Linked DNA regions of Homo sapiens. The protein of the gene in region 1 interacts with the protein of each later gene in a pairwise test. Each region holds a gene or a part of one and is shown in the gene's direction. Other genes may lie near its edges. The genes, in order: INSYN2A and BACH2.

The links.
Region 2: the proteins of INSYN2A (region 1) and BACH2 interact in binary tests that used the Homo sapiens proteins (3 or more experiments, as listed by UniProt).

Annotation. Positions count from the first base shown.
Region 1 is NC_000010.11:127,134,900-127,137,870, reverse strand, and holds the end of INSYN2A (inhibitory synaptic factor 2A), read left to right. Parts: coding exon 1-34; 3' UTR 35-2,441; downstream 2,442-2,971. UniProt on the Homo sapiens protein: Component of the protein machinery at the inhibitory synapses, probably acting as a scaffold. Inhibitory synapses dampen neuronal activity through postsynaptic hyperpolarization.
Region 2 is NC_000006.12:89,950,603-89,957,911, reverse strand, and holds part of BACH2 (transcription regulator protein BACH2), read left to right. Parts: intron 1-6,049; coding exon 6,050-7,309. UniProt on the Homo sapiens protein: Transcriptional regulator that acts as a repressor or activator. Binds to Maf recognition elements (MARE). Plays an important role in coordinating transcription activation and repression by MAFK.

The DNA of each region.
Region 1 (2,971 bases):
AAAGCACGGAAGATGGAAACTCTGGTTCCTTTAACACTCACGGTGTCTGGAGTCTCGAGGCCGTCTTTAGAACCCACTGGAGTTTAAGTCAATACTTTTCCAAAATGAATAGGATCGAGGGAACTGTGGTGCCCATTCAGGCACCTCCCACTTCTCGCCCTGCGTACCAAAAAGGCCTTTGTACCAATAGATAATTAACAGAAGCAAGGTATTCTGTGTCACTCCTTGCCAGCTGTTCTTTGCAGTTCACTGATGTGGGATGTAAAATCTGAAATGAAACTTACGTAGTCAAAGATGATAAGTAAAAATTTTCCCCCACCCCCGATCTGCAAGTAATACATTATCAACCTGCGAGATGGCAGGCTGTCACCCTGTACACAGCTATAACTCATAATTATTTTCAAGCCTTGATTTTTTTTTTAAATAATGAGAAGAAAAAGCAAGCCTTATGTTTGCGAAGGACTTCATTTTTATGTTTCATTTTGCAAATAAGCAGGGGGCGAGTGCAATTTTCAGCACATCAAATTCCGGAGAAAGCACAATTTTTTCAAGTGGTCGGAGACCATGAATAATCTCTAAAATGTGACTATATGTATATTTGCCTTCATGTGCTATAGCGCTAAGCCAAGTGACCACATCTCAGTGTCACAACGACACCTCAAATTTAGCATCCTCTTCATCTCCAGACTTACGACATGTTTACTGCTCATTTTCCAAATGGCCAGCAGCCAGGAGTCCCCCAAAGTCAGGATATGCCTTTAATCACTGCAAGTAGACAGGGTCAGAGCTATTGGACACTAAGTTTTCTTAGATCTCATTTTTAATCTTTTGGTACCCAAAGGCCAAATAATACATTCTGGCAAGAATCTGAGAACATACATAGAGATACACGATGGATAATCCACCCACCAATAAATCACAGGCATTCTGTGCCATGGCAGACAGTGTTTTTGTGGATCGATCCTCCGAGACACTGTTAGCCATGGTAAGTGCAGCCAGACGTTATGTACAATTCGTTATGCTTTGTATTAATGGTGGAAGCCCTGACCATCTCAAAGAGAAACAGTGCGTTTAGTTTAGCTGCTACCAAGGGACAATGTCGCCTACATTTAACCTATTAGTAAGTTGTACTAAACAACATACTTAGGGGAAAGCTGTGAATCAAATGTTTTTAGGTATTTTTTAAATCAACAGTAACACTTAGAGTTCTCTCTTGATTACACATTGCAATGTAAATCTTAGTTCCTTTATTTTTTCACTCATTTCTTTGCACCTTTGCAAGTATCTTTTTATAGAAATCAAATCCCCTAGTCTATTAATGACTTTGTCTATCAATTTTTTGATTTTCACAATAGGAAGTAGGGATCTTACTTTGCCTTTTTTTTTTTTTTTGTACAACTTAAATTTTGAATAGTTTGTGAGCATACAGGAAAACCTAGTCTTGAAGTTTCTGTCCAGCAGTTTCACATCTAGTGGAGTGCTGACATGCACACCTCATTGACTAGATGCCAAACACACAGTGGCTAACCTTGGTAAAAGGATCTCACCTGCTTTTGTCAGATTGGAGCTGCTTCTTGCCATGTATTTTCCTCCTGACTCAACAGCAAATCTGTTTTAGTTCTAAGTGTTTTGATTCTACAAGGACCTAGTGATCAGTAACCAGATCGGGCCTTGAAAAAAAAATGAAGAGTATGTCGTGTAAACATTCTTCGGGGGCCAAACAACACTGCAGTTGTATGCTTTAATTTAAAACACACATGTGCACACACACATCCTCTGCGGAAACACTATATGAAGTTCGAATCCCTGAATATCAATAAAAGGAACTGAGAAATATTTTGGTGCAAGAACAATGAGGAAGTTGATCCTGTAACATGAAGGAAGTGTAACTGTTTCACGTAGACTAAATATTTAAAAATGGGTTTCATGTTTTTTATACTGTTTTTAACTAAAGTTATAAAAATGTTTCCAACAAGTTCTCTCTCCTTATGTTTTAAGAATCCCAACTATCTCAGTAAATTGAAATAAGGGTATTAGCAGTTTTCTAATTAGTAACACAAATCTGTCTAAACAAGAGGACATCCTAGTACACAAAATAATGTCACTGTTTCACACCAGTCTAGACCAAAAAAAAATAAAATTAAAATGTTCAGAGTCAAAAAGGAACTTCTGAAGATAAATTAATTCATCCCTAAAAATTAAAGTGTGTTCAAAATAGAAAAACTATTGTCAAAATCATTTCATAGTTTAATTGCAACACGTCACTAACAGATGGTGATTCTTCTCTTGGAAAGATTCAAGTAAAAACGCTGATACAAAAGCAAGGTAAAACGCACAGGGTTCCCTTATGTAGATGTACACATGGCATTGCATATAGAGATTAAATTATTATACTTGTCGTTAAGTTCTTTATTAATTTTTAAATAAAAAAATCAAAGATGTTTTATGTGGCTATTAAACTTATTTCATGGCCTCAAAAATTGGGGAACATAAAAGTAATCTAAGAAAATAATAATAAAGGAAGAATGTTTGGGCCGATAGGCATTTCATCCGGTCTGCAGAAGACAAGAGCATCGTAAGGCCTGGGCCTGACCCACCAGCCAGAGCTGGCCTGGCTTGGGGAGGGAAGGGACTGACGCTTGCCCACCTATGCACCCTGGCATGGAGTTTCACCACCGGAACACATGGTGGCATTTTAGGATGCACACAGGCTCATAGCAGGAGGTATATGAGGTTTAATTCTTAACCTCAGAAGAAATGGCTAAATACATTGAGTGTTGCCACAGTACACTGTGGCATGTAAATCTTGCCTCCATGGCCCAGGGGAGGTAGCTTCTCTCTAGATCTTCCATTGAGCACATCCCCAGCCTCAAGGGATCAGCCGCCTCCTTCCTTTCTTCTTCCCCTCCCTAGTGGGAGATAGGCTGAGCGCCTACCTCTCCTGCTGACACTAGCCTAATACTAACCCATC
Region 2 (7,309 bases), on another chromosome or scaffold:
GATTTAGTTTTTATATTATTACCTTAGGAATAGAACACAAAATAAGCTCTATCTAAAATTCATAATAAAATTGCCCAGGCACAATGGCTAACACTTGTAATCCCAATACTTTGGGAGGTCAAAATAGACGGATTGCTTGAGTCCAGGAGTTTGAGACCACCTGGGCAACATAGTGAAACCCCGTCTCTACTAAAAATACAAAAATTAGCTGGGCATAGTGGTATATGCCGATAGTCCCAGCTATTCAAGAGGCTGAGTTGGGAGAATCACCTGAGCCCCAAAGGTTGAGGCTGCAGTAAGTGGCAAGATCATGCCACTGCACTCCAGCCTGGACAACCAGTATGAGACCCTGTCAGTAAATAAATAAATAAAATTAATACGAGGCCAGATGTGGTGGCTTACACCTGTAATTCTAGTACTTTGGGAGGCTGAGGCAGGAGGATCCCTTGAGCCCAGGAGTTCAAGACAAGCCTGGGCAACATAGGGAGACCCTGTCTGTAAAAATAGATAAAATAAAAATTAATACTAAAATAACCAGAAGCTTTGTTGAAATAGTAAGGTGAATTAATTTGACAAATACTTTCTAAATGTCTAGCATGCTGCTTTGGAAGAAGAATGTGATAATGTGGATATGAATTATAGAAAATTAAGATGAGGAGTGATGCCTGATCACTAAGTCAGTTTTCATCCTGCAGAGTGGGTTGCAGTGCAGTAAGAGAGTGGGAAGGGAGAGTTAATTGTCACCAGCATTGCTTTCATCATTTGACAAGTGCCTTGCTGTGCAAATACAACCCAGAGGGGTTGTCAGTGGTCTAGCGTTTTAAAAAGCCCTTGGGCAGGGGTTCATTACCTTTATCTTCCTGGTTCCTGCAGTGTGTAAGAGATTCAGCTTCATCAGGAAAGTGTACATGGTGTTGCTGAAGATGTAAGTTTCCCTTTTTTGTGAAGTTGTGATTAAGGGACCTTGAGAAGCGTGCCAGCCCTCTCCCAGGGAGCAGTCACCTGTCCTCCGGATTCATCTGATCAGCCTTCTGCAGATGGGCTCAATGCTACAGCCATGTGTATATACTGCCAAAACCAACTGGAGACACCTTAGTCATGTAGCTTATATAGAGAATGATGTTCCAAGTCTCAAAAATCCTCAAACCCTATTTTCAATAAATGCCTGAAGGCTGACTGCCTCATCCCTATCATAGTCCAGAGATGGAACTGTTGTAAGTATCCTCATAAACTCTGTCCTGCAGCAAAATGGATGTCTCATGAAACACTGAGCTCCCCAAAACACTGAGCTCCCCAAAACACTGAGCTCCCCAGCTTTGCAAACAGTGCCCAAACTTTCTCTACAAATTGAGTTTTCATCAGCCCATCTTCCTTTCAGCAGAGAGATGATATGTTAGAATCCAATGTAATGAAGGATTAAGGGTCATAGTTACAGTGGGTCAAATTTCAACACATTGTCAGCATGTTGACTTGCACCATCGGACACGGTACCCTGGCCTTATTTCTTTCAGGGTTGAACCAACTATGTGCCAACTGCTAGCTGAGGTCATCACCTCCTAGGAAGCAGTCTGTGGGAGGTTGGAGGGTTAACTTTCTGCCTTCTCCGAGGTCTCGCCCCCACATGGCACACTGTATTCTGGCCCCAATGTGTGATCCCATCTCATCTGTATCAGAATGAGTATTGCACAGTATGAGACCAGGTAGTTACATATTTAAGTGCAATGAAAAAATGTTCTTCGAAATGAGGCATTCAAAATATTTTCATTCAAAATGCAAGACTGTTATCCCAAGTTGTCCCTAACACCATATTTTGCATTTGTTTCTCATACCTTGAGGCCACTGCTGACCAGTGGATTTTAGTCTAGATGGGTCTGCTTAGAGCAGAGGGATGCAACTCCATTAACATCAGTGAGTTGGAACTATTCTTCTATTTATAGCCACTTCATTCCATTTTAACTTTATGATCATTACTTTTTAAAATACCATTTTATGAGTTGTTAGTTTTGCGTGTAATTCTCCACCTCCCACCCCCCTCTTATTTTTTCCCATTATTAGAGCCTTATTTGTTAAGAACAAAAAGTAAGTAACAATGCAGACTTGTGGTCACAGTTTCATGAACATACAGCTTTTCACTGGTACCTGAATATTTGCCTTCTGAGTATAATGAATGAATTTAAATGGTCCCTAAAAATGGGTAGACAGTGCCACCTTCTCAAGATGGAGGCTAAGCCAGTATTTAGAAAGCCTCTGCCTGTTGTAACACTTGCTGGCAGGTGTGATGGGCACTTGCTTTCTGTTTTGTGTATCTGGAGCGATTACCACTGCCGAAAGTAGACCAGAGATGGGTTCCTGGGAGGGACCCTTGTGACAGTTCCGAAAGTAGCCATCGTATCAAAGCAACCCTTGACCTAGAGCAGACACTCAAGGCGTGCTGATAAAAGTGTTCAAGGGGCCCCCTTGCTAGTCCCCTCAGCCTCAGTAGTCTCCTATCCTGAACTTGTCTGGATTTCTCAGTTGACAACTACTCATATAATCTTGCAATGGCTTTTCCATTGTTGACTTGCTTACATTGTTACTTAGTTAACTTTTCATCATTTGTACCTCTTCTACAAAGCTAAATCTTAGATCTCTTGAGCACAGGCCTGAGTCCTACACATATCCTTCCCTCACACCACTAGCACAGAAGAAGAAACAGACTGGACTTGGTTTGGAATCCTAGCTCTCCACTGACTAGCACTGACCATGGATAAACTCCTTCACCTCCCTGCTTCATAGTTTCCTTATCTACAGAATAAGGGCAGTCATGCCTGCCTTGCAGGGTGTTACAAGAGCACAGTGCTGGGCACTAGGAGATACTTGGTAAATGGTCATTCTGGCTCACCAAACAAAGCCTCACACACAGAAGCTGAGCAAAATCTTGCAGACTTAAATATGACAAAGCAGGACTGAAACCAGAATGGGAGAAGAGCTAGTTATGAGCTCTTGAACTTTCATGGTGAGGACACCATTTCCTCTGCCCTTGGGCTTAAGTGACAGTTTACAAACCAGATTTTTTATCTATGACTCTTTCATGACCATATGACGATCATTTCAAGCTCAGGAAGTTTCCTAAGCCTCAGTGATCTAAGGAGTGCCATTGATTTGTGATGTGGAGACTTTGCTCATTCACCTCCTTGGTCCAATTCATACATTTAAGCATCAGCTCGTCCCTGAGCGGAGATGCTTTCTCCAGCTCCTTGCAGCCATGTGGCAGAGGGTGACTCCCAGTACTGCTTCCTGATCTACAGATCCCCATGGATGTCCCTGGCTTCTTTAGAAATTTTCTTTACAAGAGGCCACAGTGGAAGATAGTGGTAAGACTTACTTAGACCTACAGCATCAAAAAAAAAAAAAATGGTGATAAGGATGGGAGTATGAGAAAAACTGTGTGAACACTCTGGGGACTGTTGTGGGGTGGGGGGAGGGGGGAGGGATAGCATTAGGAGATATACCTAATGCTAAATGACTAGTTAATGGGTGCAGCACACCAGCATGACACATGTGTACATATGTAACCTGCACATTATGCACATGTACCCTAAAACTTAAAGCATAATAATAATAAAAAAAAAAAGAAAAACTGTGTGAACAGTATAAATAGCATTGAAATTAGTTTCCTACATTTCCCATATAGTGAGCACCTTTGCCAAAACTCAAGAAGTGTCTTATCCACCCTTTTGGCAACTGGCACATTACAGAGGAGCATAGGATCATTACGAGGGCAGGGGTCAACTCTGCATTGATTTCACCATTTCTTTCTTTGTGGTGGAGCCATGTGGCAGTAAAGGAATAGGTCATGTGACATTCTTGTCATCTTCTTCAGTTACCTATAAATACACATTTCCTTGCTTTTTTACTTTCTTTTAAAGATTCTTGGAAGAAAAGGACATAAAACAGATGTATTGTCAGTACTACATTTGCTGAACCTATTACCATGTCAGCTTAGCAGGATACAAAAGTGTCGGTCAGACCTCCTTTTTAATACTGGTACTGTGACACGGGGCAAACAAAGACCCTTGCCTGCCTGCCTTTGATCAGTTGATCGGTTCAGTTAGTTGGTTTACATGATGCCTTGCTCCAAAAGTAACTTGAGACAACACTCTCTAAACATACTGTGTTGTCACCTTGCATACACAGTAGTAGTATGTTAGGACACAGTTTGACTCATGACATATTTGGTAACATACAAGCTTTTAACAAGTATTTACCATGTGAGAGACCCCAGGTTAGATTAGATGCAAGGTTACAAAGACAGACAAAACCATTCCTGATCTGAAGGAGCTTGCTGTCTTATGGTAGAAACAGGCACAATTAGGTATAATAAAAGGGAGATGGCACTGATTGCCCATATAGAATTTATAATGTGGGTCTAGCAGTCATGGCTTTTTGTTTTGTTTTTTTAACCAAATATCTCTGGACTCATCATCTGACAGAAAAATTTAATGTGGAATCTTACTTGAGTACTTTAAAAAGATTAACAATTAAAATCCCGTTCAGTTACATGTCTAAGAAATTTCCGTTACTGGAAAGAATGCAATGATATGAAATCAGTGCTGCCCTGGAGAATCCAGCACGTCTCCTCATCTGGCTATGAGAGCTGAGAGGACAATGTCATTCATTCTCTCTAAGAGGACTGGAGAGCACTCCCAAAGGAGTGAATGTCCAGGTTGAATCTTGAACATCAATTACAGGTCCTTGCAAGAATTTTGGCTCTGTATGCTGCGGTGAGTTTAATACACACAGAAGTCAGCTACAAAGTTTACCAGTTCACCTTGCTGTGCACTCACTCCCCCCGCTAAAATTTTGTATCACTGCTACCATAGCCTCTAGCAAGGACCCCATGATTGCTGCTTTCATTTGATTTGTACAGGATTTGTAGACATGCGTCACCTTCCTGTGTGGTCAGCAGTGCTTGCAAGAACCTAGAGGATGTGTGGTTTTATGTGCAGGGTAAGGAAGCTTACCCTGATGAACACCAGCAAGTTTAATCCATTTCCATCTGAAAAAACAATTGGCCTTAGGCAACATATTCTTAATTGTCTAAGTCATTGTGTGTGAGCAGGCATGCGTGTGGGCACACACGTGTTTGTGTGCATATGCAAGCTGTGCATAAATAGCACACTTTCAATCTTTGTAAAATATAACAGATAAGCAGCAAATGACAGTAGGCTTAGCCCCTGAAGATTTACCAGGAAAAAAAGACAGCTGCATGGCAAAGCTGCTGCTAATAATTAGGGAAGGAATAGCCCATACCCTGTGCCACTCAGCAGCTTCAACCATTTAAATGAGAGCCGGTTTGTTTAACTCTGCAACCCCCATTCATTATGGGCCAGGGGTTGATTTCATCTTGAGCACACCACTTTTGATTGTTGTCATCTCTGGTGAGATAATGAGATCATCATCATCATAAGATCAGGTAGACATGATGACCGAAAGTCTCAAGTAGAAACTGTGATGGATGAGCAAAACAGGAGTTGTTTTAATGTCTCTTTTAACATTGTAAGTGAGGAAAACCTATTTTTACAACTCCCTGGAGTTAGTTTTTTGCAGGGTCACATTGCCATTTTTGTGGTTGACAAGAAAACGTTAAGGCTCTCTTGGGCTCCAGCAAGCTGCAAGAAGTGTCACAACACTCCCCCCTCGTGTAGAATGGCTCTCAACAGGACTGATTGGGAGGGAAATTAATAGGCTCCCCATTGTCACCGTGCATTTTTGCCAGGATATTTCATTAGTGTAAACACTGAACCCGTTGTCATCTTGTTTAGCCACTTGACCCTGGTGATTTTCAATTCTGCCTGTGCTGTGATGGAGTACAACAGTGGCATGCACGAGACAGGCACTAATTATTGGAAGCAGAATCATTGCTGACCCAGTACTACAAGATTAACTGCCCCTTTGCAGTCTTTATTCTGGGACATTAGCACTGTCTGGTTATCTTGCTTCAGTTGAGGGATTCGGGACAATAGCAGTGCTGATGGTAATGTTGGCGATTTCCCTGTTTGTTTTGCAGGTCACAGCCAGGGGCTTTGGGCCGCTGTTACAGTTTGCCTACACTGCCAAGCTGTTACTCAGCAGAGAAAACATCCGCGAGGTCATCCGCTGTGCTGAGTTCCTGCGCATGCACAACCTGGAGGACTCCTGCTTCAGCTTCCTGCAGACCCAGCTCCTGAACAGTGAGGATGGCCTGTTTGTGTGCCGGAAGGATGCTGCGTGCCAGCGCCCACACGAGGACTGCGAGAACTCTGCAGGAGAGGAGGAGGATGAAGAGGAGGAGACGATGGATTCAGAGACGGCCAAGATGGCTTGCCCCAGGGACCAGATGCTTCCAGAGCCCATCAGCTTTGAGGCCGCCGCCATCCCCGTAGCAGAGAAGGAAGAAGCCCTGCTGCCCGAGCCTGACGTGCCCACAGACACCAAGGAGAGCTCAGAAAAGGACGCGTTAACGCAGTACCCCAGATACAAGAAATACCAGCTTGCATGTACCAAGAATGTCTATAATGCATCATCACACAGTACCTCAGGTTTTGCAAGCACATTCCGGGAAGATAACTCTAGCAACAGCCTCAAGCCGGGGCTTGCCAGGGGGCAGATTAAAAGTGAGCCGCCCAGTGAAGAGAATGAGGAAGAGAGCATCACGCTCTGCCTGTCTGGAGATGAGCCTGACGCCAAGGACAGAGCGGGGGATGTCGAGATGGACCGGAAACAGCCCAGCCCTGCCCCTACCCCCACGGCCCCAGCTGGGGCCGCCTGCCTGGAGAGATCCAGGAGCGTGGCCTCGCCCTCCTGCTTAAGGTCTCTGTTCAGCATAACGAAAAGTGTGGAGCTGTCTGGCCTGCCCAGTACATCTCAGCAGCACTTTGCCAGGAGTCCAGCCTGCCCTTTTGACAAGGGGATCACTCAGGGTGACCTTAAAACTGACTACACCCCTTTCACAGGGAATTATGGACAGCCCCACGTGGGCCAGAAGGAGGTGTCCAACTTCACCATGGGGTCGCCCCTCAGGGGGCCTGGGTTGGAGGCTCTCTGTAAACAGGAGGGAGAGCTGGACCGGAGGAGCGTGATCTTCTCCTCCAGCGCTTGTGACCAAGTGAGCACCTCGGTGCATTCTTATTCTGGGGTGAGCAGTTTGGACAAAGACCTCTCTGAGCCGGTGCCAAAGGGTCTGTGGGTGGGAGCCGGCCAGTCCCTCCCCAGCTCGCAGGCCTACTCCCACGGTGGGCTGATGGCCGACCACTTGCCAGGAAGGATGCGGCCCAACACCAGCTGCCCG